Regions from separate parts of the Homo sapiens genome. Here all the other regions are linked to region 4. The links come from fine-mapping of genetic effects on plasma protein levels. A gene starts in region 4. Each other region holds a variant in brackets. All regions are shown on one strand. Distances are between the middles of the regions.

Region 1 (8,000 bases), 22 kb after region 4:
GTATTTTTAGTAGAGATGGGGTTTCACCATGTTGGCCAAGCTGTTCTTGAACTCGTGATCTTGTGATCCTCCCACCTCAGCCTCTCAAAGTGCTGGGATTACAGGTGTGAGCCACCGTGCCCGGCCAACCTTTCTTTTAAAAAAGAATTTCAGAGTCCTTTCCCCTCCCCCCAAGAATAATGGGGAACCATGAAAGGTTTAAAACTGTTAAATTATGTATTATTTATTACATTAAAAATATGTGTAACTTATTGGAGGCAATGAAGTATAACAAGCAAATGAATATATCTGATGTATTTCCAAATATAATAAAGATAATATCATCAATGTCGCTGGTTCTCCTATATGTTTCTTCTCCATTCTATCTCCTTGTATCCTCCTTAGACAGCCACTTGGAATTTTGTGTTTATTATTTCCCTACTTAAAAAAATATTTTCCCATGGTATGTACCCCTAAACAATATCTGCCTAGTATTGCTTGTGTTTGGAGCTTTGTAAAAATGATATCATACTACATATGACTATAGATGTATGTCTTTTATATGTATGACTTCTCTAATTTGCTCTGTTTCACTCAATATCATGCCTCTTAGAGTGTAAGCTGTGCAGGGACATAATATTGAGTGAGAAGTCACACATATAAAAGACATACATCCACAATCATATGCATGATTGCCTCTAAGAGGCATGATATTGAGTGAAACCGAGCAAATTAGAAAATTGTGTGTTGTAGTAAACACGTCCTTCATGTTGTAGTGTGTAGTTGTGGTTTGTTCATTTTCCCCCTTGTGTATTAGGGTAATAGATGGATTTTAAGTCGGGCACGGGAGGACATGAAATCAGACTTGAATTTTCATCTTATTTTGCTGAGGTTGAAGTTTGGTTTGGTTGCTGTTGTTTTCTTCCTAGGGGTTCTCTTCAAATGTAAGGAAGATGTGATACCCGATAATAAGCAGATCCAGCAATGCCAAGAGGGAACCGCAGTGAAACCTGCATATGCAAGTATTTTTTAAGGTTCCTAGTTTTTGAGGTTTTCTTAGAAGCCATTTAGGTAGAATGTTGTTTTTGCAGTTCTAACAAAGGCAAAAGTAATAGTGGCCAAAACCAGACAGCAGTTTATTTTTCTCCTCTGTAACCTGCTGAGTGTAAGCTGTGCAGAGCTCATACCATGGCTCCATTATGCTCTGCCAGCATCAACACAAGACTCCCACTTTGTGGCCCAAGGTGGCAGCTCCAGCTCCTGCCCTCACATCTGCATTCCAGCTTGTGGGAAGGGGAGAAGAGGAAGTGAAAAGTACGGTCCTTCTCTTTAAGCGTATGACCCAGCACCACTTCTGCTTGCACCTGATTGGGTAGAAATTAGTCACATGGTCCCACCTAGCTGCAAGGGAAGCTGGGAAGAGAGAATGTTTGCCTATCTAAAACTTGAGGATTCTCTTAATAAAAGAACGGGAGAATATATTGGAGTCTTCCTGCCAGTGAAGGTGTTGATGCTGCAACTGAGTAATGTTGGTGTGGGGGTGTTACACAGCCAGCCAGGCCAAAAGGAATTTGGACATCCTGACTGTCTAATGAAGTCATTACAATGAGTAAAGACTCCATGACCTCTTTAGAAATCAATGTCACTATTCTAAATATGAGCTTGTAAATTGGCTATGGGCTTCCCACATGCCTTGGACCACTGTTTTTCTTTTTTAATTGTGGTGAGGTACACATAACATAAAATTCACCACTTTAACTATTTTAAAGTGTGCAATTCAGTGGCACTTAGACCATTCACAATGTTATGCAATCATCACCTCAATCTAGTTCTAGAAATTTTTTTTTTTTTTTGAGATGGAGTCTTGCTCTGTTGCCCAGGCTGGAGTGCAGTGGGGTGATCTTGGCTCACTGCAACCTCCGCCTCCTGGGTTCAAGCAATTCTTCCTGCCTCAGCCTCCCAAATAGCTGGGACTACAGGCACCCACCACCATGCCTGGCTAATTTTTGTGTTTTTAGTAGAGACGGGGTTTTGCCATGTTGGCCAGACTGGTCTCAAACTCCTGACCTTGAGTGATCCACCTGCCTCAGCCTCCCAATGTTCTGGGATTACAGGTGTGAGCACCGTGCTCAGCCAAGTTCTGGAATATTTTTATCACTAAGCAGTCACTCCCCATTCTCCCCTCCCACTAGCCCATGGCAAACACTAATCAGCTTTCTGTCTCTGTGGATTTGTCTATTCTTGACATTTCACAGAAATGGAATCATGCAATGTTTGCTCCTTTGTGTCTGGCTTCTTTCACTTAGCATGATATTTTCAAGGTTCTTTCATGCTGTAGTACATATCAGAGAACTCCATTCCTTTTTATGGCTGAATAATATTCCACATGGACCACTGTTAGTTCATACATTTCCTCTTCTTTTAATATCACTGGTTGGGAACAGGCCCCCCAAAATCTGGCCATAAACTGGCCCCAAAACTGGCCATAAACAAAATCTCTGCAGCACTGTGACATGTTCATGATGGCCATAATGCCCACACTGGAAGGTTGTGGGTTTACCGGAATGAGGGCAAGGAACACCTGCCCAGCCCAGGGC[G/A]GAAAAATCGCTTAAAGGCGTTCTTAAACCACAAACAATAGCATGAGCCATCTGTGCCTTAAGGACATGCTCCTGCTGCAGATAACTAGCCAGACCCATCCCTTTATTTCGGCCCATCCCTTCGTTTCCCATAAGGGATACTTTTAGTTAATCTAATATCTATAGAAACAATGCTTATCACTGGCTTGCTGTTAATAAATACGTGGGTAAACCTCGTTCAAGGCTCTCAGCTCTGAAGGCTGTGAGACCCCTGATTTCCCACTTCACACCTCTATATTCCTGTGTGTGTGTCTATAATTTCTCTAGTGCCGCTGGCTTAGGGTGTCCCCGATTGAGCTGGTTTCAGCAATCACTAAGTAGTTTTGCTATTTGTTTATGTTTGCTTTTTTTATTCATGGAAGGAAAAGGTGATGTGATTCTAATTCTGATCAAGTAATGAGTTTTAGTTTCCCTGAGAATTCTAGAGACTCAGGAATTCAGAGCCACCTCATATGATGGGCTTTATGGGCTAATTTGTAGATTACATGCTTGGGGGAATACATCGATTCATGCTCACAAATGCTCTTTTTTTTTTTTTCTGGGACGCAGGTCTCCTTTTGTGCACAAATAAATAACATCTTCAGCGTTCTGGACAAAGTGTGTGAAAATAAAACGACCGTAGTTTCTCTGAAGGTAACGATTGGGTCTTTTAAATTGTGTTTTGAGTTTCAAACATCTTGGGCACACTTTGGGTGCAGAAAGATGTCTTTATGGCTGGGCGTGGTGGCTCACACCCATAATCCCAGCACTTTGGGAGATTGAGTCAGATGAATCACTTGAGGTCAGGAGTTCAAGACCAGCCTAGCCAACATGATGAAACCCTGTCTCTACTACAAATACAGAACTTAGCCGGGCATGGTGGCAGGTGCCCATAGTACCAGCTACTCAGGAGGCTGAAGCAGGACGATTGCTTGAACCCGGGAGGTGGAGGTTGTGGTGAGCCAAGATAGCACCACTGCACTTCAGCCTTGGCAACAGACTGAGACTCCATCTCAAAAAAAAAAAAAAGAAAGAAAGAAATATCTCTTTATAATGAATGGATTGTGAATTAATATTTAATTTTTTATAGCTGTAAGATTTGAAAAATTAGCATACAGTAAAATTACCTTTTTACTTGTATAGTTTGATGAGTTTTCTCACCTGAATAGACTTGTTGAACTACCACTATAATTAGGATGCAGAACAGTTTAATTATCTCCAAACATTCCCTTGGGCTTCTCCTTTATAGTCAGATACTCCCTCCACCACTAAACTCTATAAATCCCTGATCTGGTCTCTGTCACCAGAGTTTTGTCTTTGGAAGAGTGTTATATAAATGAAACCACATAGTATGTGGTCTTTTGAGACTGGCTTCTTTGACTCAGCATAGTGCATTTGAGATGCCTGGATAGTGTGTATATAAACAATGCCATTTCCTCCTCCTCCTCCTTCTTCCTTCTTTCTTTTCCTTCCTTTTTACTGTTAATGAGATTCAGCACATTCTCATTGCTGTATATAACCATCACCATTATCCATCTCAAGAACTTTCTCATCTTTCTCATCTTTTCAGGGGGACAGAATTGGTTGGTGGTTTTTTTTGTTTGTTTGTTTTGTTTTGTTTGTTTGTTTGTTTTGAGATGAAGTCTTGCTCTGTTGCCCAGGCTAGAGTGCAATGGTGCGATCTTGGCTCACCGCAACCTCCACCTCCCAGGTTCAAGCGATTCTCCTGCCTCAGCCTCCCGAGTAGTTGGGATTACAGGCATGCGCCACCATGCCCGGCTAATTTTGTATTTTTAGTAGAGACGAGGTTTCTCCATGTTGATCAGGCTGGTCTCAAACTCCCGACCTCAGGCGATCCACCTGCCTCGGCCTCCCAAAGTGCTGGGATTAGAGGTGTGAGCCACCAAGTCTAGCCAAAAGCTAGTTTTTCTTAAGCTTTAAGTTGAACTCATTGATATTGTCATTTTCTTTATAAATCTGGTTATTTTTGTATGAAAATAAGAATAACACTTTTACTTATAATTGTATTAATTTTAAATTAATACATTTATTTTTATTCATAAAGTATACATTCATCCCTAGGGTTTTCAGATTAAATTTTGATAAATGATTAATCCTATTTACAAACTTAGTTCAATTTCCTCGAATGTTTTATACTATGTTTATAAATATTCCAATTCCCCCCTCCCGCTCCACCCAAATTTCAAGTACCTGGTGAAGAGGATTTACAAATCTAATAGGCAAAGTCACTTGGGTCCTGAGCGACTCATAAATCCAATCGATCGAATCTATAAATATAATAATTCAGATTCTTTTAGACATTCAATATGGTTTATAAATAGCCACGTTCTCTTAAATTGTTCATATTAAAATAACAAGTCTAATTGCTTTTTGCAATAAAATTATGTGGTTTATTGGTTAGCTTCTCTAATGTGTCAAACTGTTCCAACTCTTTTTTTTTTTTTTTTTTTGAGATGGAGTCTTGCTCTGTTGCCCAGGCTGCAGTGCAATGGCGCAATATTGACTCACTGCAAGCTCCGCCTCCCGGGTTCATGCCATTCTCCTGCCTCAGCCTCCCAAGTAGCTGGGACTACAGGCGCCCACCACCAAGCGTGGGTAATATTTTGTATTTTTAATAGAGACGGGGTTTCACCATGTTGGCCAGGCTGGTCTCGAACTCCTGACCTCAGGTGATCCACCCACCTCAGCCTCCCAAAGTGCTGGGATTACAGGCATAAGCCACCACACCCAGCCCCAACTCTTTAAATAGGAGATGTTTCTAGATTATGCTAAAGATGTCAAAAACTTCTAAATTTAACACAAATCCTACTAAGGATGTTTAGTTTGCCTAAAATTTTCTAACTTTCCTGAGGATATAAAATAACTTCCCTAGCTAAGAATAAATTTAACATATCAGAGGGGCGGGATTTGAAGAGATTTTGCCAGTTGTCGAACTGAGTACTATGTTTCCTGGAGATGGTCCTAGTTGAGATGTTTCTGCTATGTCAGTGGGGAGGGGAGTCCCACACCCATGCCTTTTGGGGATTACAGAGCTCAGGGCTTCCTGTTTCTCTTGGACAAATATCTCTCAAATGTCCCGCTTACCCCGTGTTTATTGAAATCCTTTTTTTCCTTTTATCATCTAATTTGGATAGATAGAAACTTGTATTGCTGCTCAAATTTCAGTTTAATTTCCTCTACCATCTGACTGGATTTAATTCATTTAATGCATTTTCCTGCATTTATTAGGTTCTGGATTCCTTTTAGTTTTTTTTTTTTTTTTTTTTGCTTGGGTCAGAGTCACATGTGATAGTCAATTTATTGATAATAATCAATAATAAGGGGAATCATATGAATATTACTATTACTATTGTTGTTATTGTTTTTCTTACCTTAATCCTATTCCTCAAACACATCCAGTGTTAAGAGGTAGATAAGTATCTTCCCCTATCTTTTTACCTTGTAAGCATGTACACACATACACACATATACATACATACACATACAAATAAACACACACACATATACACACATGCGCACACACATACACATACATACAAATACATACACGTATACACACGTGTACACACACATATACACCTCCCCCACATGCACACACATGCACACACAGTATGTACACACATACACACATATACATATGCATATACACATATAACATACATACACATGCACACATACACATACAAATGCATACACACACACCCCACACACATTTACACACATACACACACCCCACACACATTTACACACATACACCCCACACACATTTACACACATACACACATGTATACACACATCTATGCATGTACCCATACACACATACAGACATACACAGACATCTACACACAGATACACACATACACATCCACACACATATACACACTCCTGACACACATACACACATATATACATACAGGCATATACAAATGTACACACATACACAAACACACATATATACACACACGTATACATACATATACACAAACACACATACATACATAGGCATACATAGACATACACAGAGATATACACACATGCACACGCATGTACACAACCCAACACATACACACATATACACACACCCACATATATAAGCACACACACACACATGCACACACAGTGCAGTCATTTTATTGAGCACTTACTATGAGAGGTTTAGGACAGTGATTAATGATTCAGCCTCTGCTGCCAGACTGCCAAGGTTCAAATCGTGGTTCTTCCACCTGCTAGATATGAGTCCTTGTTTCTCCTTTCAAAAATCAAAATAATCATAAATAGCCTCTACTTCATAGATATCTTCTACAAATTAAACAAGTTAATATATAAAAGACATTTAGAGCAATACCTGGCTCGTAATAAGTGTGTGCTATTTTTATTTCTATATGCCAGAACATAAATACCATAATATAAAATTTTAAATTAAACCAATTGTTTCTAAACCAAATGCAATACTATATACATGATACTCTGTAATTTGCTTTAGTGAACAGTGGCTCAGAGACCCTTTTGCTTGTTAATGCCTATAGGTATACTGCAATATTCATTTTAACAGCTGTATGGCTGTTATTTGATTTCATCTTCATTTATTGACCCAGTCTGTAGGGCATTTAGGCTTTCCACAAACTATCCTGAGATGAACATCACTGGACAAGATCCTTGCACAACTTTTAAGTATTTCTGAAAAGATTAATTCCAGGAAGGGGAATTGCTGTGTCAAAGGGTATATGCAATTTACATGGCTATGGGTACAAACTTACTGCATTGCATAAAGGTTACATCAATTTGTCTTTCTTGCTTGCTTTCTTGCTTTCTTTTGACAAGATCTCACTCTGTCACCCAAGCTGGAGTGCAGTGGAGTGATCATAGCTCACTGCAGCCTTGAACTCCAGGGCTCAAGAGATCCTCCCACTTCAGCCTCCTGAGTCGCTGGGACTAGCGTCATGCACCACCGTGCCTGCTCTTTTTTAATTTGTTTGTACAGATGGGGTCTTGTTATGTTGTCCAGGCTGGTCTTGAATTCCTGAACTTCAATTTGTATTTCTTTTTTTTTCTTTTTTCAGACAGCCTCTCTCACTGTCGCCCAGGCTGGAGTGCAGTGGTGCGATCTCAGCTCACTGCAAGCTCTGCCTCCTGGGTTCAAGTGATTCTCCTGCCTCAGCCTCCCAAGTAGCTAGGATTACTGGCACGTGCCACCATGCCCGGCTAAATTTTTTTGTATTTTTAGTAGAGACAGGGTTTCACTATGTTTGCCAGGCTGGTCTCAAACTGCTGACCTCATGATCCACCCACCTCAGCCTCCCAAAGTGCTGGGCTTACAAGTGTGAGCCACTGCACCCGGCCTGAATTTGTATTTCTGATGGGGCTTCTTGAATCAGAAAAAGGAGC
Region 2 (7,736 bases), 12 kb after region 4:
CATCACTTCTATTCATTCTCCTTGGCCAGATTTTCACCAGGTGGCCACAGCTAGCTGCAAGAGAAGCTGGGAATGCAGTCCTAAACTGGATGGTTCTATTATTATAAGGAAGAGGGTGGAATGGATTTGGGGGAACAGCCACCATTCTTGGCTTTGAGGTTTGCTGCTGGAACTTGAACTCAGATCTGCCTTGTCCCGAAATTTGCAGTTTTCACTCTCACACTTTTCTGTCTAGTGCTTGGATGTTCATGGTGTGATCCATGGAGCAACAGAATTGGCATCCTCCAGGCACTTGTTAGAAATGCAAAATCCCCGGCCCCCTTCCCCAGACCTGCTGAATTAGTACCTGATTTTCCAAGATGTTCTTGGAATCCAAGGGGAGGCAGGTGATACTGGTCTGTGGATACTTTGGGTAGCAAGGATCCAGATGAGTGCTTCTCAAACTTCCCTGTGCGCACACATCACCTGGGATCTTGTTCAAATGCAGATTCTGATTCAATGGATTTTGCATTTCCATCTAACTCCCAGGAGATGCTTATGTGGCTGACTCACAGACCCTACTCTGAGTAGAAAGGGTCTAGGATCTTTGAGGTACATGGTTAAATATGATTGGTTGCTGTATCCGTTTCCTAGGGCTGCTTAAAATGACAGAAATTTATTCTCTTCAAGTTCTGGAGTCCAGAAGTGTGAATTCAAGGTATTGGCAGGGCCAGTCTTTCTCCAAAGGCTATAGGGCAGAATCTGTTCCATGCCTTTTTTTAAGGCTTTTGTTATTGCTGGCAATCCTTGGTGTTCCTTGGCTTCTAGACATATCACTCTGATCCCGGTTTGCACTGTTGCATGGCACTGTCCCTGTGCATGTCTGTGTGTCTCTTCTCTTCTTATAAGGACACCTGTGGCCCACCCTACTCCAGCACTACTTCATCTTAACTTTTATCTTAATTGCATCTACAAAGACCCAGTTTCCAAATAAGATGAAATTCACAGGTACCAGGGTTTAGGACTGTAACGTATCTTTTGGGAGGAACACAATCCAACCCATAACAGTCACCTCCACCCTTGTATGCTGGGTTCCCTTGCAGCCTCACTCTAATGCTCTAATCTTGTCTAAACTTTTCTTTATACACTGCCTAGGTAATAACTGTAGAGACAGTACCTTGTGCCCAGCTTATGCCACCTGCACCAATACAGTGGACAGTTACTATTGCGCTTGCAAACAAGGCTTCCTGTCCAGCAATGGGCAAAATCACTTCAAGGATCCAGGAGTGCGATGCAAAGGTGAGTTCATGTCCCCTCAAACCATCCAGCATTTGGTAGGAAAATCAAGTCAAAGCTGGCTGGGTATTGAATGTAGGTACTCCCCCACCCCCCATTTTTTTTTAAATCTGGTTTAACTATATATTTTAAGTGGAGTATTAGGTCATTTCTGTTCAAGGTTAATATTGATATGTGGGGGTGTTGTTACTGTCACAGCATTGCTAGCTAGTGTTGCTAGCAAACATGATTTTCTTCCTTCCTTCCTTCCTTCCTTGCTACTTCCCCACCCTTCCTCTCTTTGATCATGTAAATAATTCCTGGTCACTGTAAAATTTCATGGATGGTTGAGTTTCCTCACAATATGGTGGCTGGATTCCAAGGATAAGCATCCCAAGAGAACAAGGTAGAACTACATGATATTTTTATGACCTAGTGTCACTTCCACCATAGTCACAAGTATGCTCAGATTCAAGATGGGGACATACCTTCCATTGCTTGACAGAAGAAGTACCAAAGTGAAGTGCATATGGGATGGGAGATATTGTTTTAACTTTTTTTTTTTTTTTTTTTGCAAAATACAGTCTTCTATCTAGTATAAGTAAATTTGTAACTCCAATTCTCTGTCTAGATATTGATGAATGTTCTCAAAGCCCCCAGCCCTGTGGTCCTAACTCATCCTGCAAAAACCTGTCAGGGAGGTACAAGTGCAGCTGTTTAGATGGTTTCTCTTCTCCCACTGGAAATGACTGGGTCCCAGGAAAGCCGGGCAATTTCTCCTGTACTGGTAATGCTCTCAGGTTCCCAGGGATGGGTCTTGGGTGGATATCTATCAGTGGGGTGAGTTCATGTATTTCTGAACTGAGGCACCCAATTTCTTATCTGCTCACCCTCTTCCACTGCTTCTCAGATATCAATGAGTGCCTCACCAGCAGCGTCTGCCCTGAGCATTCTGACTGTGTCAACTCCATGGGAAGCTACAGTTGCAGCTGTCAAGTTGGATTCATCTCTAGAAACTCCACCTGTGAAGGTATCCATGACCATCTCTTTATTATTTACCTACTTAATTAATTAAGGGTCATCTCACTGGAAGACCATATGAGAAAGGGATTTTCTCATGTAGGGATAAGAAAATTGGGGCTCAGAGAGGTAAAAATATATAGTTGCTTATATCTTTTTCTATCCCTTTACTTTGAGCCTGTGGGTGTCTTTACATGCTAGGTAGGTCTCTTGTAGCCAGCACATGGTTGGGTCTTTTTAAAAAATTTTTTATCTGGTTTAACAATCTATATCTTTTAAGTGGAGCATTAGGCCATTTCTATTCAAGGTTAATATTGATATTTGAGGGTTTTGTTCCTGTCACAGCATTGCTAGCTAGTATTGCTAGCAAACATGATTTCCTTCCTTCCTTCCTTCCTTCCTTCCTTCCTTCCTTCCTTCCTTCCTACTTCCCCACCCTTCCTCTCTCTGATCATGTAAATAATTCCTGGTCACTGTAAAATTTCATGGATGGTTGAGTTTCCTCACAATATGGTGGCTGGATTCCAAGGATAAGCATCCCAAGAGAACAAGGTGGAAGTACATGATATTTTTATGACCTAGTGTCACTTCCACCATAGTCACAAGTATGCTCAGATTCAAGATGGGGACGTACCTTCCATTGCTTGACAGAAGAAGTACCAAAGTGAAGCGCATATGGGATGGGAGATATTGTTTTAACTTTTTTTTTTGGCAAAATACAGTCTTCTATCTAGTATAAGTGAATTTGTAACTCCAATTCTCTGTCTAGATATTGATGAATGTTCTCAAAGCCCCCAGCCCTGTGGTCCTAATTCATCCTGCAAAAACATGTCAGGGAGGTACAAGTGCAGCTGTTTAGATGGTTTCTCTTCTCCCACTGGAAATGACTGGATCCCAGGAAAGCCGGGCAATTTCTCCTGTACTGGTGATGCCCTCAGGTTCCCAGGGATGGGTCTTGAGTGGATATCTATCAGTGGGGTGAGTTCATGTATTTCTGAACTGAGGCACCCAATTTCTTATCTGCTCACCCTCTTTCACTGCTTTGCAAATATCAGTGAGTCCCTCACCAGCAGCGTCTGCCCTGAGCATTCTGACTGTGTCAACTCCATGGGAAGCTACAATTGCAGCTGTCAAGTTGGATTCATCTCTAGAAACTCTATCTCTTTATTATTTACCTGCTTAATTAATTAAGGGTCATCTCACTGGAAGACCATATGAGAAAGGGATTTTCTCATGTAGGGATGAGAAAATTGGGGCTCAGAGAGGTAAAAATATATAGTTGCCTATATATTTTTCTATCCCTTTACTTTGGGCCTGTGGGTGTCTTTACATGTTAGGTAGGTCTCTTGTAGGCAGCACATGGTTTGGTCTTTTTTACAAAAATTTTTATCTGGTTTAACAATCTATATCTTTTAAGTGTAGCATTAGGCCATTTCTGTTCAAGGTTAATATTGATATTTGAGGGTTTTGTTCCTGTCACAGTGTTGCTCGCTACTTGCTTTGTGATCTCAGTTGTGTAATTGCTTTATAGGATCTGTGAACTATATGCAAATATTAAGTGGAAGAGCTGGGATTTGAACTCCTGCTGAGGACCTACTATAAGTCAAACAATGGTATCAGAATATAATGGGGTGCACTTGTCTCCAGACCGATATTTTCCCCAGGGGACATTGGCAACATCTGGAGATATTTTTGATTGTCTCAACCGGTGATGGTGGGGAGAGGTGCTGTGTATGGCATCTGATGGGAAGAGGTCAGAGATGCTGCTAAACATCCTATAATGCACCGAAAGGCCCCCACAACCAAGAATAATCTGACCCTAAATGCCAATAGTGCTGAGGTGGAAAAACCTTATTCTGGGCTGGGCGCGGTGGCTCACGCCTGTAATACCAGCACTTTGGGAGGCCAAGGCGGATGGATCACTTGAGGTCAGGAGTTCAAGACTAGCCTGGCGAACATGGTGAAACCTTGTCGCTACTAAAAATACAAAAAATTAGCCGGGCATGGTGGCAGGCACCTGTAATCCCAGCTACTCGGGAGGCTGAGGCAGGAGAATTGCTTGAACCTGGGAGGCGGAGGTTGGAGTGAGCTGAGATTGTGCCATTGCACTCCAGCCTGGGCAACAGAGCAAGACTCTGTTTCAAAAAAAAAAAATACCCAACAACAAGAAGAACAAAACACACAAAACCTATTCTGGGGAGATTCTAAAGTCTAAACTTCAGAACGTTCCCCTAAAAGGTATTTGAATTAACAGTTGAAAGTTATCTTTAATCAGCCGGGCGCAGTGGCTCCTGCGTGTAATCTCAGCACTTTGGGAGGCCAAGGCAGGCAGATCATGAGGTCAGGAGATGGAGACCATCCTGGCTAACAAGGTGAAACCCCGTCTCTACTAAAAATACAAAAAAAAATAGCTGGGCCTGGTGGCACGTGCCTGTAATCCCAGCTACTTGAGAGGCTGAGGCAGGAGAATGGTGTGAACCCAGGAGGCAGAGCTTGCAGTGAGCCGAGATCACACCACTGCGCTCCAGCCTGGGTGACAGAGCGAGACTCCATCTCAAAAAAAAAAAAAAAGAAAGTTATCTTTAATCTTTTCTCTCCCTTCACATTAAAGCAGTCATCACACCTTGGAGAATCTACCTGCTAAATATGTTTTGAGACTGGGTGTGGTGGCTCACACCTGTAATACCAGCACTTAGGGAGGCTGAGATGGGAGAATCGCTTAAGACCAAGAGTTTGAGACCAGCCTGGGCAACATAGTGAGACCCTGTCTCTACAAAAAAAAAAAAAAAATTAGAAAATTAGCCAAGTGTGGTGGCATGTGCCTGTGGTCCCAGCTACTCAGGAGGCTGAGGTGGGAGGATCACTTGAAACCAGGAGGTTGAGGCTGCAGTGCACTATGCTTGCATCACTGCATTCCAGCCTGGATAACAGAGCAAGACCTTGTCTCAAAAATAAATATATAAATAAATATGTGTTGAATTCCTCCACTGTTTTCCATCCTTGGTTCAGGCTTGATCATCACTGCAGCAGCCTCCTCTCTAGTCTTGCCTTTTTCAGTCTTATTCTCTCCAATCCATCCTCTACACTGCAGCCAGAATGTCCTCACCAAGAGACAAGAGCTCCATCTTCCTGTGTCTAGTGCATTGTTATTCTCCACATTCATTTATGGGATGGTGACTCCATTGAGAAAGGCAAGGAGTGGTCAAGCCCTCATTATATCCCCCTGGCTTAGTTTAAGAGATGTTTGAAATCATCTCTGCCTTTGCTACTCCATTTGTAGCAGTGAGCTATCACTGGGTAACAAATTGTCTTAAAAATTAGTGTCTAAAAACAACCACCATATATTTAGCGCTTGATTCCATGAGTTGACATTTTAAGTGGTCTATTCTAGCCAGATCTTTTGGTCTCAACTGGTCTTGTTCTTGTGTCTGCAGTCAGCTGACCTTGGCTGGGCTTTTGTCTTGTTGCCTCTGCCACCTTAGGTGTGAGCCTCATCCCCATGGTTGGGAATGGATCACCCCACTCTGTCCATCTTCCAGCCCAGGTGAAAAGGGAGAAGAAGTGTAGAGTATGCTCTTTCTTTTCAAGGGCATGACCAGATGGTGCACACATCACTTCTATTTATTCTCCTTAGCCAGATTTTCACCATGTAGCTACACCTAGCTGCAAGAGAAGCTGGGAATGCAGTCCTCAGCTGTATTGTTACATTATTACAAGGAGGAGGGAATGGGTCTCACATGTCTGGGGCTCATCTGGGATGATTCATTTCTCTCCCATTTGGTCTTTTGTTCTTCATTAGGCTAGTCAGGGGCTTGTTCATATGGCAGAGATCAGAGGCCCAATAGAATGAACAGAAGCCAACAGGTCTCTTGAGGCCCAGGTTTGGAATTAGCACCTCATTACTTCACTGTCTTCTATTGGTCAGTGCAAGTCGTAGGGCCAGCTGTATTTAAGGGGTAGAGAAACAGACTCCACCTCTTAATGCAAGGTATGGTAAAGTCACATCTCTTACAATCTACATCTTGGGGTGTAAATACAGAGAGAAGTAAAGGACTATGGCTACTTTTCCAATTTCTGATAATTATGTTTTGAAACTATTTGCCACCCTTCTGCTTACATGCTATTGGCTAGAATTTGCTCTCATGGCCATGCCTACTGAAAGAAGGAACTGGGAAATATGTCCCACTGTGTGCCTGGGAAGAAGGGGGGAACATGGATATTGGGGAGCATCAGCCCTGTCTGCTGAAAATCAACACTCAGAGTGCATCTCCTATTTGTAGTCTCTACTCCTTGCTTTCTCATTTACCTTGACCTGGGTTTTCTCTTCCACTCTTCAGACGTGGATGAATGTGCAGATCCAAGAGCTTGCCCAGAGCATGCAACTTGTAATAACACTGTTGGAAACTACTCTT[G/C]TTTCTGCAACCCAGGATTTGAATCCAGCAGTGGCCACTTGAGTTTCCAGGGTCTCAAAGCATCGTGTGAAGGTAGGTGGGGGTGTCTTCTGAGAAGTCAGGTCCAAGTCTGTTTGAAAAGACAGCAGTGAGGGGATTAGGGTGGGTCTTGGTTGAGTTTGAGACTTTCATCTGCAAATCTGAAGCCAATAATCATTCATTCACTCATTAAAGAAATACCTCTTGAGCACTTACAGTATACGTGGCACTATTCTAGGCACTGGGGATAGAGCAGTAAATAACATCTCCAAATAACATCCCACTGGGGCTTAGGGCTTCCATATAGGAATTTGGAGGAGGGGCACCATTCAGTCCATAGCACCCATGAACAAACAGCTTGTAAGTGACAGAGCCAGGCTATGAACCCAGAATGTCCATGTTCTCAACCCCTCCACTGTGTGCCTCTTTTTGTTTGTTTGTTTGTTTGTTTTTTGTTTTTTTGGGGTTTTTTTGTTTTTTGGTTTTGTTTTGAGATGGAGTCTTGCTCTGTTGCCCAGGCTGGAGTGCAGTGGTACAATCTCGGCTCACTGCAACCTCCCCCTCCTGGGTTCAAGCAATTCTCCTGCCTCAGCCTCCCAAGTAGATGGGATTACAGGCATGTGGCACCATGTCCAGCTAATTTTTGTATTTTTAGTAGAGACAAGGTTTCACCGTGTTGGCCAGGCTGGTCTCAAACTCCTGACCCCAGGTAATCTGCCTGCCTCGGCTTCTCAAAGCGTTTGGATTACAGGCATGAGCCACTGCGCCCAGCCTGTTTTTTGTTTTTGAGACGGAGTCTTGGTCTGTCGCCCAGGCTGGAGTGCAGTGGCTTGATCTCAGCTTACTGCCACCTCTGCCTCCCAGGTTCAAGCAATTCTTTTGCCTCAGCCTCTTGAGTAGCTGGGATTACAGGTGTGTGCCACCATGCCCAGCTAATTTTTTATTCGGGACAGGTAAGCCCCAAAGTGGGGTTTAGCTCACAAGGGTTCTTGGCTTTGCCCAGGAGAGAATTCAAGGGCAAGCCAGAGGTAG
Region 3 (8,217 bases), 13 kb before region 4:
TGCTTTGGCAGTGTACAATGTGATGTTTTGACAAGCACTGTTAACAATGCTACAGTAAAAATATGGATCAGTCCGGGCACGGTGGTTCATGCCTGTAATCCCAGCACTTTGGGAGGCCAAGGTGGGCAGATCGTTTGAGGTCAGGAGTTGGAGACGAGCTTGGCCAACATGGTGAAACCCCGTCTCGACTAAAAATACAAAAATTAGCTGGGCATGGTGGTGCGCGCTTGTAATCCCAGCTACTTGGGAGGCTGAGGCAGGAGAATTGCTTGAACCCAGGAGGCAGAGGTTGCAGTGAGCCGAGATTGCACCACTGCACTCCAGCCTAGGCAACAGAATAAGACTCCATCTTAAAGAATATACATAGATCATTTCCATCATTCCCCTAAGTCCCCTGGGACCCTCTTGTAATTCATCCTTCCCTCCACCCCGGCCCTAGGTAACCACTGATTTGCTTTCTCTACCCCTAACCATATATGGTTTGTGTTTTCTAGAATTTCAAATACATAGAGTGGTTAATTTTATATGTCAACTTGTCTAGACTGTGGGAAGGTATTTTTAAGCTATGATTAATGTTTATAGTCAGTTGACTTTCAGTAAATTAGATGACTCTCTATAAAGTAAGTGGGCCACTTCTAATCAATTGAATTCCTTAGGAGCAAAGATAGGTTTCCCGAAGAAGAAGGAATTCTGACTTCAGACTTTAACATAGAGATATAGAAATTCTGCCTGTGAATTGCAACAAAAGCAAAAATTGACCAATGGGATCTAATTAAACTAAAGAGTTTCTGCACAGCAAAAGAAACTGTCATCAGAGTGAACAGGCAATGGCCGGACCTGGTGACTCACGCCTGTAGTCCCAGCACTTTGGGAGGCTGAGGAGAGTGGATCATGAGGTCAAGAGTTTGAGACCAGCCTGGCCAACATGGTGAAACCCTGTCTTTACTAAAAATATAAAAATTAGCGGGGCGTGGTGGTGGGTGCCTGTAATCCCAGCTACATGGGAGGCTGAGGCAGGAGAATTGCTTGAAGCTGGGAGAAGGAGGTTGCAGTGAGCCGAGATTATGCCACTGCACTCCAGCCTGGGTGACAGAGCAAGACTCCATCTCAAACAAACAAAAAATTAACTGGGCATGATGGCACATGCCTGTAGTCCTAGCTACTGGGGTGGCTGAGGTGGGAGGATCACTAGAGCCCAGGAGGCTGAGGCTGCAGTGCCGAGATTGTGCCACTGCACTCCAGCCTGGGCAACAGAGCAAGACTCTGTCTCAAAAAACAAAACAAAACAAAAACAAAAGCAACAAACAAACAAAAAACGAGTGAACAGGCAACCTACAGAGTGGGAGAAAATCTTTGCAATTTATCCATCTGACAGAGGTCGAATATCCAGAATCTACAAGAAACTCAAACAAATTTACAAGAAAAAGACAAACAACACCATTGAAAAGTGGGCAAAGGACATGAACAGACACTTCTCAAAAGAAGACATTCATGCAGTCAACAAAAATATGAAGAAAAGCTCAACATCAATGATCATTAGAGAAATGCAAATTGAAACCACAATGAGATACCATCTCATGCCAGTCAGAATGACCACTATTAAAGAGTCAAGAAACAATAGATGCTGGCGAGGTGGCAGAGAAATAGGAATGTTTTTACACTGTTGGTGGGAAAGTACATCAGTTCAGCCCTTGTGGAAGATGGTGTGGTGATTCTTCAAAGATCTAGAACCGGAAATACCATTTGGCCCAACAATCCCATTACTGCAAATATACCCAAAGGAATATAAATGATACTATTACAAAGATACATGTATGTGTACTTTCATTGCAGCACTACTCACATAGCAAGGACATGGAATCTACCCAAATGCCCATCAATGATAGACTGGATTAAGAAAATGTGGTACATATATACCATGGAATACTATGCAGCCATAAAAAGGAATGAGATCGTGTCCTTTGCAGGGACACGGATGAAGCTGGAAGGCATTATCCTCAGCAAACTAACGCAAGAACAGAAAACCAAATACCACATGTTCTCACTTATAGTGGGAGCTGAAAAATGAGAACATATGGACACAGGGAGGGGAACAACACACACTGAGGCCTGTCAGGGGGTGGGGTTGGGAGAGGGAAAGTATTAGGAAAAATAGTGAACTCATGTTGGGCTTAATACCTAGGCGACAGATTGATAGCTGCAGCAAACCACCATGGCACATGTCTACCTGTGTAACAAACTTGCACATCCTGCACATGTACCCCAGAACTAAAAATACACATTTAAAAATGTTTTTAAAAAGAAACAAGGCTGGGTGCGGTGGCTCACACCTGTAATCCCAGCACGTTGAGAGGCCGAGGTGGGTGGATCACCTGAGGTCAGGAGTTCAAGATCAGCCTGGCCAACATGGTGAAACCCCATCTCTACCAAAAATACAAAATTAGCTGGGTATGGTGGCACATGCCTGTAGTCCCAGCTACTCGGGAGGCTGAGGCAGGAGAATTGCTTGAACCCGGGAGGCGGAGGTTGCGGTGAGCCGAGATCACGCCATGGCACTCCAGCCTGGGCAACCCAAGAGTGAAATTCCCTCTCGGGGAAAAAAAAAAAAAGAAAAAGAAACAAAGCTGGGTGTGGTGGCTCACGCCTGTAATCCCAGCACTTTGGGAAGCCAAGGTGGGTGGATCACCTTGAGGTCAGGAGTTCGAGACCAGCCTGGCCAACATGGTGAAACCCCATTTTTAATCTCTACTAAAAATACAAAAGTTAGCCGGGCGTGGTGGTGCATGCTTGTAATCCCGGCTATTCAGGAGGCTGAGGCGAGAGAATCGCTTGAACCCAGGAGGCAGAGGTTGCAGTGAGCCAAGATTGCGCCATTGCACTCCAGCCTGGGTGACAGAGTGAGACTCTGTCTCAAAAAATAAATAAAATAAAATAAAATAAATTTTAAAAGAAGAAAGACATTTTGCCTGTGCTTTAAGCCTTTGGGCCCAAGACTGCAGTATCACCTCTTACCTGAATCTGCAGCCTGTCAGATTGCCTTAGGGATTTCGGACTTGTAACCCCTACAATCCCGTGAGCCAGTTCCTTAAAATCACTCTCTCTCTCTTTCTGACTCTCTGTCTCCCTCTCTCTGTCTCTCTGTTTCTCCTCTTAGTTTTGTTTCTCTGGAGAATCTTG[G/A]ATAATACAAGATCCTTTTAGTTTATTCCCTCTTTGTGTCTGGCTTCTTTTCTGTCTTTTTTCAAAAATTTGCATGAATGTATGAGGTACAAGTCCAGTTTTGGTACATGGATTACTGCTTAGTGGTGAAGTCTGGGCTTTTAGTGTAGCCATCACCCGAGCCATGTACATTGAACCCACTAAGTAATTTCTCATCCCTCACTCCCCTTCCACCCTTCCAAGTCCCCAGTGTCTATTATTCTACACTCTACGTCCATGTGCACGCATTATTTAGCTCCTATTTATAAGTGAGACTATGTGGATTTGACTTTCTGTTTCTGAGTTGTTTTATTTAAGATAACGGCCTTCAGTTCCATCCAGGTGTTACCAAAGACATGATCTCATTCTTTTTTATGGCTGAGTAGTATTCCACAGTTCATATATGTGGGGGGTTCAGTCAGAGTGGTTGGAAAAACTATAAGGAAAGGACTCAAACCTTCTGAAAGTTTGGAAGGTTCTGCAGAGCCCCGGGGGAGGAATAGCTGAAGGCAGCTGTTCTATAACCCTGAGGCAGAGGGCAAGGAGTAGGTACAAGGGAGTGTGGGCGAATTTATCTTAAGCAGGCCTGTTTACTTACGTTGACCAGGAACTGACTTTTGATCATCTGCCTATGTGATGTTCCCTGAAAGGGGAGCAATAAATGTTAATTACCTACAGGTTGTGTGTACTCCATGTTTTTGGCATTGTGCCCACACTGAACAAATGCAAGCAGCTCCAGCTTCTCGGGGCTGCTCTCTGGCCGCTAGAGCCAGGCAGTCACCTGGCTGCTCTTACACTGCATACCTGTGTCTGACTACTCATTTCATCCCATCGGCCAGGGTCTGCGGGACAGACCCAGTACACATACACCACATTTTCTTTATCCAGTTGTCTGTAGATAAGACACTTGGACTGATTTCATATCTTTGCTCTTGTGAATAGTGCTGTGATAAACCTACAAGTGTGGGTATTTTTTTGAGAAAATGATTTCTTTTCATCTGGGTAGAGTGGGACTGTCAGAACGCCTTCTCAATTTTTTTCTTTTTTTAGAGATGGGGTCTTCCTCTGTCACTCAGGCTGGAGTGCAGGGGTGCAATCATGGCTCACTGCAGCCTCAAATTCCTGGGCTCAAGCGATCCTCCTACCTCAGCCTCCCAAGTAGCTGGGACTACAGACTTGTAGTAATTTTTGTATTTTTAGTAGAGACGGGGTTTCACCATGTTGGTCAGGCTAGTCTCAAACTCCTGACCTCAAGTGATCTACCCACCTCGGCCTCCCAAAGTGCTGGGATTACAGGCATGAGCCATCACACCTGGCTCCCTCTTCTGACTTTTTGCTCTGTATCCTTTCACTGTAACAAATCATAACCATTAGCAAGACTATATGCTGAGTCTTCTTAGAGAATCATTGAGCTTGGGGAGGGGGGTCTCCGGGACGCCTGATAAACCACCCCTACCTTTAAAGAAAGAGCCTTAGGAGCCATAGATAAACCATGAAGTCTTTGGAGGACAATGAAGTCTTTGCATCCACCTCCCTCTTAGAAACCCTGATTCTTTTCTCCTGCAAAAGGGCAGCTGCTGTTCATTTCTCACCCCCTCAAGAATTGTGGTCTTCCTTCTGGGGAAGCGGGGTAGGGATGCAAAGTTCAGTAGATTCATCTATTTCTCTTCCCTTCTTTTTCCTCATTTGTTTCTTTATTTTCTAGGATACAACAGCCAATGAAATTCTTTCCCTGCCCTGAGAAAATGCTCAGTTTTTTGAGGGAAACAGACATTCAAGCAAGCATAGATAATACTGACTATGGTGATGGGGGGGGAGGATGGAGGAGGCGCCTCACTCTCAAGTGGAAGTCAAGGAAGGCTTCCTGGAGGAGGTGATATTTACACAGAAAGGTTGTATAGGATTGGGGTGAATGTGCATTTCAGACTTGGTGTCAAGAGAGAACTGGGTTTGGTGGCACATGCCTGTAATCCCAGCACTTTGGGAGGCTGAGGCAGGAGGATCGTTTGAGCCCAGGAGTTTGAGACCAGCCTGGGCAATAAAGCAAGATCTCATCTCTAAAAGAGAAAAAAAAAAATTAGCAGGGTATGGTAGGGTATGCTTGTGGTCTCAGCTATTTAGGAGGCTGAGGTGGGAGGATTGCTTGAATTCAGGCAGTTGAGGCTGCAGTGAGCTGTGACTGAGCCGTTGCACTCCAGCCTGGGCAACAGAGCAAGTCCCTGTCTCAAAAAAAAGAAAAGAAAAAGAGAGAGAGTTTGAAGTAGAACTTGCTGTGAGGTTTCTTGTGCACAGGTGTTTTTGAGGGAGAAGATCAGGACAGAGCAAGGGAATGAGCTAAGCAAGGAAGTGGTCTTAGCTGGAGTCCAGCCTTAGCCGGATCCCATGGGGAGCCCTGGAGTGTGACTGGTGCCACCAGGTTGGTCTCACCCTGGGGGCATGGGGCTGGCCTTCTGCACCTCTGTGACCATCCGTTATGGCTGTGGGCTGGGTCTGAGGGTTTGCACAGTTGCTCAGCTGAGGAGAAGGGGGAAGCTGTGAGCTATGAGCTATTGTAGGCAGCACTCACTCACAGCAGCCCCAGGATGGGTGCACCAGCCTGGGAAAGGTCAGTGAGCAGAGCGTTGACTGCACCCACAACAGGGACTTCAAGTATTTTATAATCACTGGGGGGCTTTTTGTTGTTGTTTTTTTGAGACAGGGTCTCACTCTGTTGCCCAGGCTGGAGTGTACTGGTGCCATCACGGCTCACTGTGACCTTGACCTCCTGGGCTCAAGCAATCCTCCCGAGTAGCTGGGACTACAGGCATACACCACTAGGCCTGGCTTATTAAAAATTTTCTTTTATAGAGATGGGGTTTCTCCATGTTGCTCAAGCTGGCCTTGAACTCCTGGGCTCAAACAGTCCTCCCACCTTGGCCTCCTGAGTAGCTGGGACCACAGGTGTGCACCAGCCACTATGCCCAACTAATTAAAAAAAAATTTTTTTCTGTAGATTCAGGATCTCAGTATGTTGCCTTGAACTCCTGGGCTCAAGCGATCCTCCTGCCTTGATTTCCCAAAGTGGTGGGATTACAGGCATGAGCCACTGTGTCTAGCTGATCACTAGGGCTTTAGGGGGAGTGGAGATCAATAAAACAAGATGGGGAGACCAGAGTCAGACTACGTAGAGCCTTGAGTGCCATATTAATAAGCCTGAACTTCATCCTGAGGGCAATAGGGAGCCATGGAAGGGTTTAGAGTCTAAGCAGGGCGTGGACAGGTTAGGCAGGGATTCCCCAACTTCCCTGCCCCTTCCCGGCACTCTGTGTGACGGTAAGTGATGTTCCTGCAGCTCCCCAGGCTGATTTCTTCAATCTTGAGAGTCCCTTGTATTCCCCTTTGCTAGGGAAGTCATTAGGGGTTAGATTTTGTAAGCTTCTTGGCCAGAATTGTTGATTTCCTCTTCCACATCTTTCCCCTTCCTGTTCTTACACCCCCACCCGCAACTCTGCAGGGCCGCTGCAGGACAGTCTTTATATAGCTTCGGTCACCTCTGTGGGTTTGAAGGGTGTCTGGAGTCTTGGGTTTTCAGTGTCTCACTAGGACCCGATACCCTGCCTGTGGTAGGTGGGATAAAGGGCCTCCTCTCCCTCCACGAGGCACCTACAGCCTAATCCCTAAAGCCCAAGGATGTGTTCCCTTCTATGACAAAAGGGACTTTTGCAGATGGGATTCAGTTAAGGGCTATTTTTTTGGGGGGGAGGTGGGGGGAGTGGGGACAGAGTCTTACTCTGCTGCCCAGGCTGGAGTGCAATGGCACGATCTCAGCTCACTGCAACCTCTGCCTAATGTCATTACAAGAATTCTTACGAGAAGGAGACAGGAGGATCAGGGAGAGAGAGAGAGATGGAGAGATAGAGATACACAGAGAGTGAGAGAGAGAGAAAGAATGAGAGAGAACGAGAGAGAGAGAGAGAGAACAAGAGCAATAAGGAGAGTGAACAAGACAGACAGAATGGGCCAGGCGCAGTGGCTCGCGCCTGTAATTCCAGCACTTTGGGAGGCCGAGGCGGGCGGATCACTTGAGGTCAGGAGATTAAGGCCAGTCTAGTCAATATGGTGAAACCCCATCTCTACTAAAAATACAAAAGTTAGCCAGGTATGGTGGCAGATGCCTGTAATCCCAGCTACTCGGGAGGCTGAAGCAGGAGAATCGCTTGAACCCGAGAGACGGAGGTTGCAGTGAGCCGAGATCGTACCACTGCACTCCAGCCTGGGTGACAGACTGAGACTCTGTCTCAAAAAAAAAGGAGAAAAAAAAAAGAGAGAATGAAAGAGCAAGAGGGAGGGAAAAATGAGAGAATAAGCAAGAGAGAGAACTTGAGAGAGAGACAGACAGAGAAAAAGAGAGAGAATGAGAGAGCAAGAGAGAGGGAAAATGAGAGAGAGAGAGAGAGCAAGAACGAGAGATTTAGAGTACGCAAGAGACATTTGAAACTGCTAGCTGCTGGCTTTGCATAGGAAGGAAGGGACCATGAGCCAGGGCATGTGGGTTGCCTCCAGAAGCCAGAAAGGACAAGGAATGGATTCTGCCCTGGAGCCTCGGGAAGGATTGCAGCCCTGCTGGCATCTTGGTTTTAGTCCCATGAGACTCGAGAGGACTCTGACCTCTGGACCCATCATATACTAAATCTGTGTTTTCCCCAAGCTGCCAGGTCCGTGGCAAGCCTCATCCCATCCCCATCCCCAGAAGGGATCTGGGTTTGATTGCAAAACCTTCCAACTCTTTAGCCCAGCCTCCAAATGTCGAATCCTTCTTCTGTCTCAAACTCCCCTGCTACATCTAGACAGTCCCCAAATTCGGTTGTTCCTGCCTCCTAAATTCTCCGTCACTATAGCCCCTGCCCCAGACCAGGCCACTGTTCTCTTCTCTCTCCTGGCTGTATCCCCAGCCTCCTCCCTATCTGCCCACCTGTGAACCCATCCTGTCCAATACCCACCTACAAAACACAAACATAAAATTCCAACCTGAGCCTGTGGCTC
Region 4 (8,205 bases):
TTCTTTTAGAAAAACACACTTTATTCATATTTCTTTGGGGTTTTGTTTTGTTGTTGTTGTTGTTTTTGTTTGTTTTTTGAGACCAAGTCTTGCTGTGTCACCCAGGCTGGAGTACAGTGGTGCGATCTCAGCTCACTGCAACGTCTGCCTCCCAGGCTCAAGCTATTCTCCTGCCTCAGCCTCCCAAGTAGCTGGGACTACAGGTACGTACCACCATGCCGGGCTAATTTTTGTATTTTTAGTAGAGACAGAGTTTCATCATGTTGGCCAGGCTGGTCTTGAACTCCTAGCCTCAGGTGATCCACCCACCTCGGCCTTCCAAAGTGCTGGGATTACAGGTGTGAGCCACCGTGCCCAGCCAAATCTGACTGATTTTCAATGTGAAAATAAAATATAAAAACAGTTCTTGGAGTTATTTCTAACCAGAACTAACATCAGAATCGTCAATTTTGGAAAAATTGGATTCATCAGATAAATTTTCAGCCAACAACTGTTTGAGAATGATAGTAACATCATGCGTAGGAATGCTACACTTTTCTAGGATCTGACATTTTCAGCAATCAAGAATTACTGTATTTTGTAAAATATACTATAGTATATAGTAAAAAATACCATATTTTGTAAAATATAGTAATCTGGAAATATCCCTACTAAAAACAGAACACTATAAATAGAATCATGTCTTTTGTTTTCAAAGTTGATACACTAGAGCAATGCAAAAATAATAATAAAGGTGAGATATTTCACGGCAAAGTTATCTCTGGGTAAATGCTGCAGCCACAAGCGCCACCAGCTAGTATTCTTGGGGCCAACGGGGAAAGAATGAAGGCACAAACAGAAAGCCACTGATGAATCTGGCTAGACGCGGTGTCTCAGGCCTGTAATCCCAACACTTTGGGAGGCCAAGGTGGGAGGATCACCTGAGGTCGGGAGTTCCAGACCAGCCTGGCCAACATGGTGAAACCTCGTCTCTACTAAAAATACAAAAGTTAGCTGGGCATGGTAATACACGCCTGTAATCCCAGAAACTACTCGGGAGGCGGAGGTTGCAGTAAGCCAAGATCACGCCACTGCACTCCAGCCTGGGTGACAGAGCGAGAGTCCATCTCAGAAAAAAAAATAAAATAAAATAAAAAAAGAAAGCCATTGGTGAATCTTTGTTCCAGTGACAATAACTCCAAAGCTGGTAGTTTGCTTTGCAAAGAACAAAAGGGGAAGGCAAAAACACGTGGAGCTTTTCTTTCTAAGAATTCGGGGATGTTCTATGCACCTCCTTTGTACCTTGTGACAGCTGCTATCAGTGGCTGCCCACACCCATAACCTAACAACACATTAATATGCCCTAGCTTAACGCTGATACGGGAGCTAGAAAGAAGTTATTTAGGCAGAGAGTGAGGGCAAGAGAGTCCTCGGTAAGGTTTGCCTTTTAATAAAAAGCAGCCCCCAAATCATTTATTTTATTTTATTTTTTTTTTTTTGAGACAGAGTCTTGCTCTGTCGCTCAGGCTGGAGTACAGCGGCACAATCTCGGCTCACTGCAAGCTCCGCCTCCCGGATTCAAGCAATTCTCCTGCCTCAGCCTCCCGAGTAGCTGGGATTACAGGCGCATGCCACCATGCCCGGCTAATTTTTGTATTTTTAGTGGAGACGGGGTTTCACCATGTTGGTCAGGCTGGTCTCAAACTCCTGACCTTGTGATCCACCCGCCTCGGCCTCCCAAAGCGCTGGAATTACAGGCGTGAGCCACCGCGCCCGGCCAAATAATTTCTTTTCTAAAAAAGAGCAGTCTGAAAAATCAGCCGGCAGACATAGAAAAGCAAGCTGGAAGCTTGCTCGGGTGAATGCCGGCAGCTGTGCCAATGGGAATAGGCTACCTGGGTGCCAGGCGTGTTCAACATGCAGGCTTGCTCCATGTTCCCTTTTCTTTATCAACCACGTGTACGGTAAAGGAACAGGCAACATGGTCCTGGCCAGGTAGAGACCCCATCTGCATAATAAAATATTAGGGTGGGCAGCCAGCTTCTTTGTACTCTATGTAAACGGCACACCTGGTCCAACTAATCTTTGGGCCCTTATGTAAATCAGATATCACCACCTAAAGCTCATCTATAAAACCCCGTGCATTTCACCATGAAACTGGAAGACCCACTTGGGAGCCCCCTCTCTTTGCAGGAGAGAGAGCTTTTCTCTTTCTCTCGCCTATTAAATTTCTTTTCTTTCTTTCTTTTTTTTTTTTTTTTTGAGATGGAGTCTTGCTCTGTCACCCAGGCTGGAGTTCAATGGCACAATCTCGGCTCACTGCAACCTCTGCTTCCCGGGTTCAAGCGATTCTCTTGCCTCAGCCTCCTGAGTAGCTGGAATTACAGGCATGAGCCACCACACCTGGCTAATTTTTGTATTTTTAGTAGAGATGGGGTTTCACTATGTTGCCCAGGCTGGTCTCAAACTCCTGATCTTAGGTGATCCACCCGTCTCAGCCTCCCAAAGTGCTGGGATTACAGGCATGAGCCACTGTGCTCGGCCTAAACCTCTGCTCTAAAAGTAATTTTTTGTGTGTCTGCATTTTATTTTATTTTATTTTATTTTATTTTATTTTATTTTATTTTATTTTATTTTAAGACAGAGTCCCACTCTGTTGCCTAGGCTGGAGTGCAGTGGCACGATCTCGGCTCACTGCAGCCTCCGCCTCCTGGGTTCAAGCAATTCTCTGCCTCAGCCTCCGGAGTAGCTGGGATTACAGGTGCCTAACACCATACCACACTGGCTGATTTTTTGTATTTTTAGTAAAGACGGGGTTTCCCCATCTTGGCCAGGCTGGTCTTGAACTCCTGACCTCGTAATCCACCCTCCTCAGTCTCCCAAAGTGCTGAGATTACAGGTGTGAGCCACGGTGCCCGGCCATGTCTGTATTTTCTATTTCCTTGGTGTGAGGCAATGAACCTCGGGTATTACCCCAGATGGATGACACTGCTTCAATATCTGCCAGTCACTACACTTTGTTATCAGTGGGATTACATCAACTGGAGCCCATTCTATCTGCTTGGAGGCCAGGCCTGAAGATTCAAGGGGTTGACACCCTCTAGGAGCAAGCCTCAAGTCAACCCATGACTGACAGTAGGTGGGATATAAATACCTCAGCTCCCTCACCCCTCGGTTGGAATAACTGAAGAGTATGTTCCATGCCGCTCCCCAGTCATCCCTGGGGAGGTTAAGTTCCACTTTCTCACCATGTAACTTATTTGAAGACACACCCAGTATTGGCTCTTTGCCTTTCCTGATTCACTTTCTCCTCCCCCAGCTGGTGCTTTCTGGGGCCACCTTCTTGATAAACTACTTTTGCTAGAATCCTTGTCTGAGGGTCTGCCCTTGTGAGACCCTAAGATGTTACCAGAGAGAGTTAGGAAGCTGGGAATGGGGTGGAAGTGTTGCTGTATAATCGTCAGACAGAGTTGAGATCTGAAGGAAAATAAGATGGTTAAAGCTCTTGACTCTGGAATCAGAGGGTCCTGGGTTCAAATCTCAAGTCTGAGAGATCTTGGACAAGTTATAACTCCTCTGCAAGTCTCAGTTTCCATTTTGTTGGTGAATAGAGGGAGGGAGGGGAATTCCTACTTTACAAGGTTAACATGATAATGAAATTACACTTTGTTGCCAATGTGCCTAGCACACTGCCTGGTACATGATGGTTGTGATGGCTGTCTTTATACGGGAGACTGGGAAGAGACCCTAAAGGCTGAGATTTGCTTCACTGGAGGCAGGAAGCGGAAGCTCCTTTATTGGGTGCAATGAAAGAAGGTGTTGAGAGATGGGAGATAGATGTTGATGGGAAAGAAAAAGGGAGAGACCATGGGAAGGAGAGAGAGAGAGAATGATATACATTAGGCAGATTAACTTCTCTTTATTGTGAAGAAAGGGGGAAATTAGGATTTTCTAGGCTGTCTTTTAGTTGCAGCAAGTCAGCAAAAAGGGCTATGATGACCAGGCAGCATTGAGCAACTCTGACTCCGCCTTCCCCTCTTCGCACACCTTCTGGTTACTGAAAACCCAGCGTTAGTAGAAAAGTTTCTTTTCTTTGAATGACAGAACTACAGCATAATGCGTGGCTTCAACCTGCTCCTCTTCTGGGGTGAGTGTGAGGCTGAATGGGGGGCTAGGGGAGGCCTGGATTGGAAATAGACTTCAGGAGAAATGGGAGGGCCATGGATGGTCCAGCCAAGAGATCATAAGTCCAGACTGGATGCTGCAAACACCTTCATTCAGGGAACCTTTGACAAAATTCCATAGCTCAGGGAAGTCCATCTGTTAGGATAGATTTTTCTCTATAGTCATTCATTTGACCTGAGCAAGTCCTGTGTGTCAGGTGCTGTTCTAGGCACTAGAGGATATAGCAGTGAGAAAAAAAGACTAAGTTCCTGCACTCTTGAGGCTGATATTCTAGTGGGTAGGAGCAGACAGGAAAGAAGGCACAGATGATCATAGCCCACTTAGCACTGCTGTAACTTCTTTAAACATAGAGTGTATCCAATTGTCACAACATTTCTATGACATTGGGTCATTATTAGTCCTATTTTGCAAATGAGAAAACTGAGGCAAAAGAGATAAAATAATTTTCCCAAGGCCACTTAGTCAATAAGGGGTAGAGGCAGGATTTCAAGCCAGACAGTCTGACTTCAGAGTCTGTAAGCTTTTCCACTATACTATGTTGCCCCAAAAAATAAGTAAACATAGGAATTTCAGGTAGTGATAAGTGCTATGAAAGAAGTTGTTATAGAATGTGGTCGGGAGTTATGTTGAAGGGAGAAGTCTGGGGTTGAGGAGGGGCAGTTCGAGCTGAGTCCTGAAGGATGAGATAGACCCTTCCTGTGCTCTTATTTCTCTTTCTTCAGGTGTCAGTTTGTCTCAGCCTTGTTTATCTTCTGTGTTTCTGGTTTTTCTTCTATGTCTTGTGTGTTTTGGTCATTGGATCAAATTTAAGAATGGAGGATATTGGGGACATATTCTAAGTAGCAAGTATGGGTTTCCTCTGCTGTTGAAGAGTGGATCTGAATACCCTATTTTACCAAGGAGGAAACTGAGGCACAAAGAGATTAAATAACTTCCTCAAGGCCACGCAATCATTAATTGGTGAAGCCAGATTTTTAAACCTAAGCACTTTGACTTCAGACTTTGTATGCCTAAACAGCATGCTGAATTACCTCTAAAATAATTAATGAATGAGTAGAAGAATTTTTGTTAGTAATAATAGATAGAATTTGGGAGTTTAGATCTGTGGGACTTGTTGACTGGCAGGCTACATTAGAAGAAATAGGTGGCCTGTGGACATCAAATGTAGGCATGCAGAGTTGTTATTTTGGGGTGTTGGCAATGGTATTAACCATTAACACTCCCTATTCTGCCCTGAAGATAATCAGCAAAGAGTTGTGATAATGATAGTGATGATAATGATCATGATGGTGGTGGTTATAATAGTGATGATGAAAATGGTGATGATGATGGTGATGGTGATGATGATGATGATGATAATGGTGATGATAGTGATAATGAAGATGATGGTGATGATGATGGTGTGATAATGACCATGAAGATGGTGATGATGGTGATGATGATAATGGTGATGATAGGGATAATGATGATGATGGTGGTGATGATGGTGTGATAATGACGATGAAGATGGTGATGTTGGTGATTATGGTGGTGATGATGATGATGGTGGTGATGGTGATAATGGTGATGGTGATGATGATAATGGTGATGATGGTGATAATAATGATGATGATGATGGTGATGATGAAGATGATGATGGTGATGATGATAGTGATAATGATGGCGATAATGATGATGGTGCAGGAGACCTAAATGCTGCAGGGCTGCATTGCCTTTAAACACTAAAAAATGGGCAGGGCGCAGTGGCTCACGCTTGTAATCCCAGCACTTTAGGAGGCTGAGGCAGGCAGATCATGAGGTCAGGAGATCGAGACCATCCTGGCCAACATGGAGAAACCCCGTTTCTACTAAAAATGCAAAAATTAGCTGGGCGTGGTGGTGCGTGCTTGTAATCCCAGCTACTCGGGAGGCTGAGGCAGGAGAATAGCTTGAACCAGGGAGTTGGTGGTTGCAGTGAGCCTAGATCACGCTACTGCACTCCAGCCTGGTGACAGAGTGAGACTCCATCTCAAAAAAAAAAAAAAAAAAAAAAAGGAAAGAAAAACGAATTGCCCTACCCTCTCATGAAATGTTAATACTACAGATATACTGTATACCTATATATGTATTTTCTATATATACATATGTATCTTATACATAAAAGAGTAAGCTTAAAAAGATCTCTTCCTGAGAACCAAGTTTGGGTCCTTAGAGGATATATCACCCCTTTTGAGAATGCATGCTTTAATGTATGTTTTTGAAAATCAGCTAGAACTTTTTTTTTTAGACAGGGTCACCTAGGCTGGAGCGCAGTGGCATGATCTTGGCTCACTGCAGTCTCTATCTCCTGGGCTCAAGCAATCCTTCCACCTCAGCCTCCTGAGTAGCTGGGGCTACAAGTTGTCACCACCACCCAGCTAATTTAAAAAATTTTTTTTTTGTAGAGACAAAGTCTCACTGTGTTGTCCAGGCCGGTGTCAAACTGCTGGTCTCAAGTGATCCTCCCACCTTGGCCTCCCGAAGGGCTGGGATTATAGGTGTGCACCACAGTGCTTAGCCTGGAACTATTTAATCAAAAAGAAAAAGAAGATAAAGACAGACAAAATGAAAAGCAAAAGCAAAGTACAGAAAACCAGGAATGGTCATTGTTAAGCTTATGCAAAATAGTGTATGTTTGTTCCTTAACTAGGTTTGTCATCTAGCCTCTTCAAACCTATTTCTGTGGGGCCAAGCCAGGAGTAATTTTGCAGGTTGAGCCCAAAAGGTTTTTTTTTTTTTTTTTTTTTTTGGTGGTTCATGGTGTTTTTCTTTTCTTTCTTCACAGGATGTTGTGTTATGCACAGCTGGGAAGGGCACATAAGACCCACACGGAAACCAAACACAAAGGGTAAGTTGGCCAGAGAGAATGCAGATGCCTGAAGGGGTAGAGAAAGTTTTCTCCCCGGGGAAACATCCCAGGAAGCTGAGCCTCATCCAGATGCTTGCTGGGAGCTAGTTAGCGGCAGAGCAAGGGTTAACATGCAAGTCTCCTGATTCTCACTTCAGGCTCTTTCCTTTGTGCTTAGAATTGCTGTGTGATCTCAGATAAGTCACATAACCTCTCTGAACTTCAGTTTCCCAAGCTGTGAAATACAGATAACAATAGGGATGTTGTGAAACTTTAATTCAAAGAGGTAGCTTTGGAAACCACCTGGTATGTAGTATGAGCTTTATAAATGGTAGTGTAGTGAGAGTAGGGATGGAATTTACTCAAACTACAACTCAATGTGCAAAAAAAAAGTGACTTCTTTATGTTTTGTTAAATACTCTCATCTACATAAACTCTTGCTGGATAAAGGAAGAAAGACATTGTCAGTTCGTAGTTGTTGATATGGTTTGGCTATGTCCTCACCCAAATCTCACCTTAAATTGTAAGAATCCCCACGTGTCAAGGGCGGGGCCAGTTGGAGATAATTGAATCATGGGGGATGGTTTCCCCCATACTGTTCTCGTGGTAGTGAGTAAGTCTCACGAGATCTGATGGTTTTATAAATGGGAGATCCCCGCACAAGCTCTCTTGCCTCCTGCCATGTAAGTAAGACATAATTTTGCTCCTCATGATTGTGAAGCCTCCCCAGCCATGTGCAACAGTGAGTCAAATTAAACCTCGTTCCCTTATAAATTACCTAGTCTCGGGTATGTCTTTATTAGCAGCATGAAAACAGACTAATACAACTGTTCCCAGTGTCTCTGTTTCCTGGTTCTTCTTTGGGCAACTTAGCAACTTGGTCTATATTGTGTTAACAGCTCATCTTTCACATTTTTTTTTTTTTTTTGAGATAGATTCTCGCTCTGTTGCCCAGGCTGGAGTGCAGTGGTGCGATCTCGGTTCACTGCAAGCTCCGCCTTCCAGGTTCACGCCATTCTCCTGCCTCAGCCTCCCGAGTAGCTGGGACTACAGGCGCCCGCCACCACGCCTGGCTAATTTTTTTGTATTTTTAGTAGAGACGGGGTTTCACTAGAAACCAGGCTGGTCTTGAACTCCTTAGGTGATCTGCTCACCCCAGCCTTCCGAAGTGCTGG

Alleles and levels. Positions count from the first base shown, and alleles are read on the strand shown. Strength reflects both the effect of a copy and how common the allele is. Not every link is listed here.
In carriers of allele A in region 3, the plasma level of the protein whose gene starts at base 4,066 in region 4 tends to be higher than with G alone (moderate association).

Evidence for each region. PIP is the posterior inclusion probability: the model's chance that the variant is causal. The UK Biobank Pharma Proteomics Project read protein levels with antibody pairs (Olink). The fine-mapping took linkage between variants from a reference panel, not from the people measured, so its PIPs are less certain.
Region 1: its variant is fine-mapped to the plasma level of the ADGRE1 protein (UK Biobank, PIP 0.99).
Region 2: its variant is fine-mapped to the plasma level of the ADGRE1 protein (UK Biobank, PIP above 0.99). The variant lies in the coding sequence of ADGRE1. If it changes the protein, the assay may bind it differently, which can mimic a change of level.
Region 3: its variant is fine-mapped to the plasma level of the ADGRE1 protein (UK Biobank, PIP 0.97).

Annotation. Positions count from the first base shown.
Region 1 is chr19:6,905,525-6,913,524 of GRCh38, forward strand. ADGRE1 (adhesion G protein-coupled receptor E1) reads left to right here. Exons shown (of 21, transcript NM_001974.5): 9 at 909-997; 10 at 3,165-3,248. It overlaps LOC105372256 (a long non-coding RNA gene), which reads right to left. Exons shown (of 3, transcript XR_936288.4): 2 at 6,761-6,864. Among named protein-coding and RNA genes, the nearest start is that of ADGRE1, 22 kb to the left of the region's middle. The variant G/A (reference allele first, on the strand shown) is at 2,577.
Region 2 is chr19:6,895,264-6,902,999 of GRCh38, forward strand. ADGRE1 (adhesion G protein-coupled receptor E1) reads left to right here. Exons shown (of 21, transcript NM_001974.5): 3 at 1,135-1,278; 4 at 1,886-2,041; 5 at 2,165-2,284; 6 at 6,612-6,758. LOC105372256 (a long non-coding RNA gene) reads right to left here. Exons shown (of 3, transcript XR_936288.4): 3 at 6,729-6,795. Among named protein-coding and RNA genes, the nearest start is that of ADGRE1, 12 kb to the left of the region's middle. The variant G/C (reference allele first, on the strand shown) is at 6,687.
Region 3 is chr19:6,870,339-6,878,555 of GRCh38, forward strand. No RefSeq gene overlaps it. Among named protein-coding and RNA genes, the nearest start is that of ADGRE1, 13 kb to the right of the region's middle. The variant G/A (reference allele first, on the strand shown) is at 3,178.
Region 4 is chr19:6,883,514-6,891,718 of GRCh38, forward strand. ADGRE1 (adhesion G protein-coupled receptor E1) reads left to right here and starts at 4,066. Exons shown (of 21, transcript NM_001974.5): 1 at 4,066-4,126; 2 at 6,968-7,030. The coding sequence starts at 4,096. RefSeq lists an enhancer at 4,060-4,119.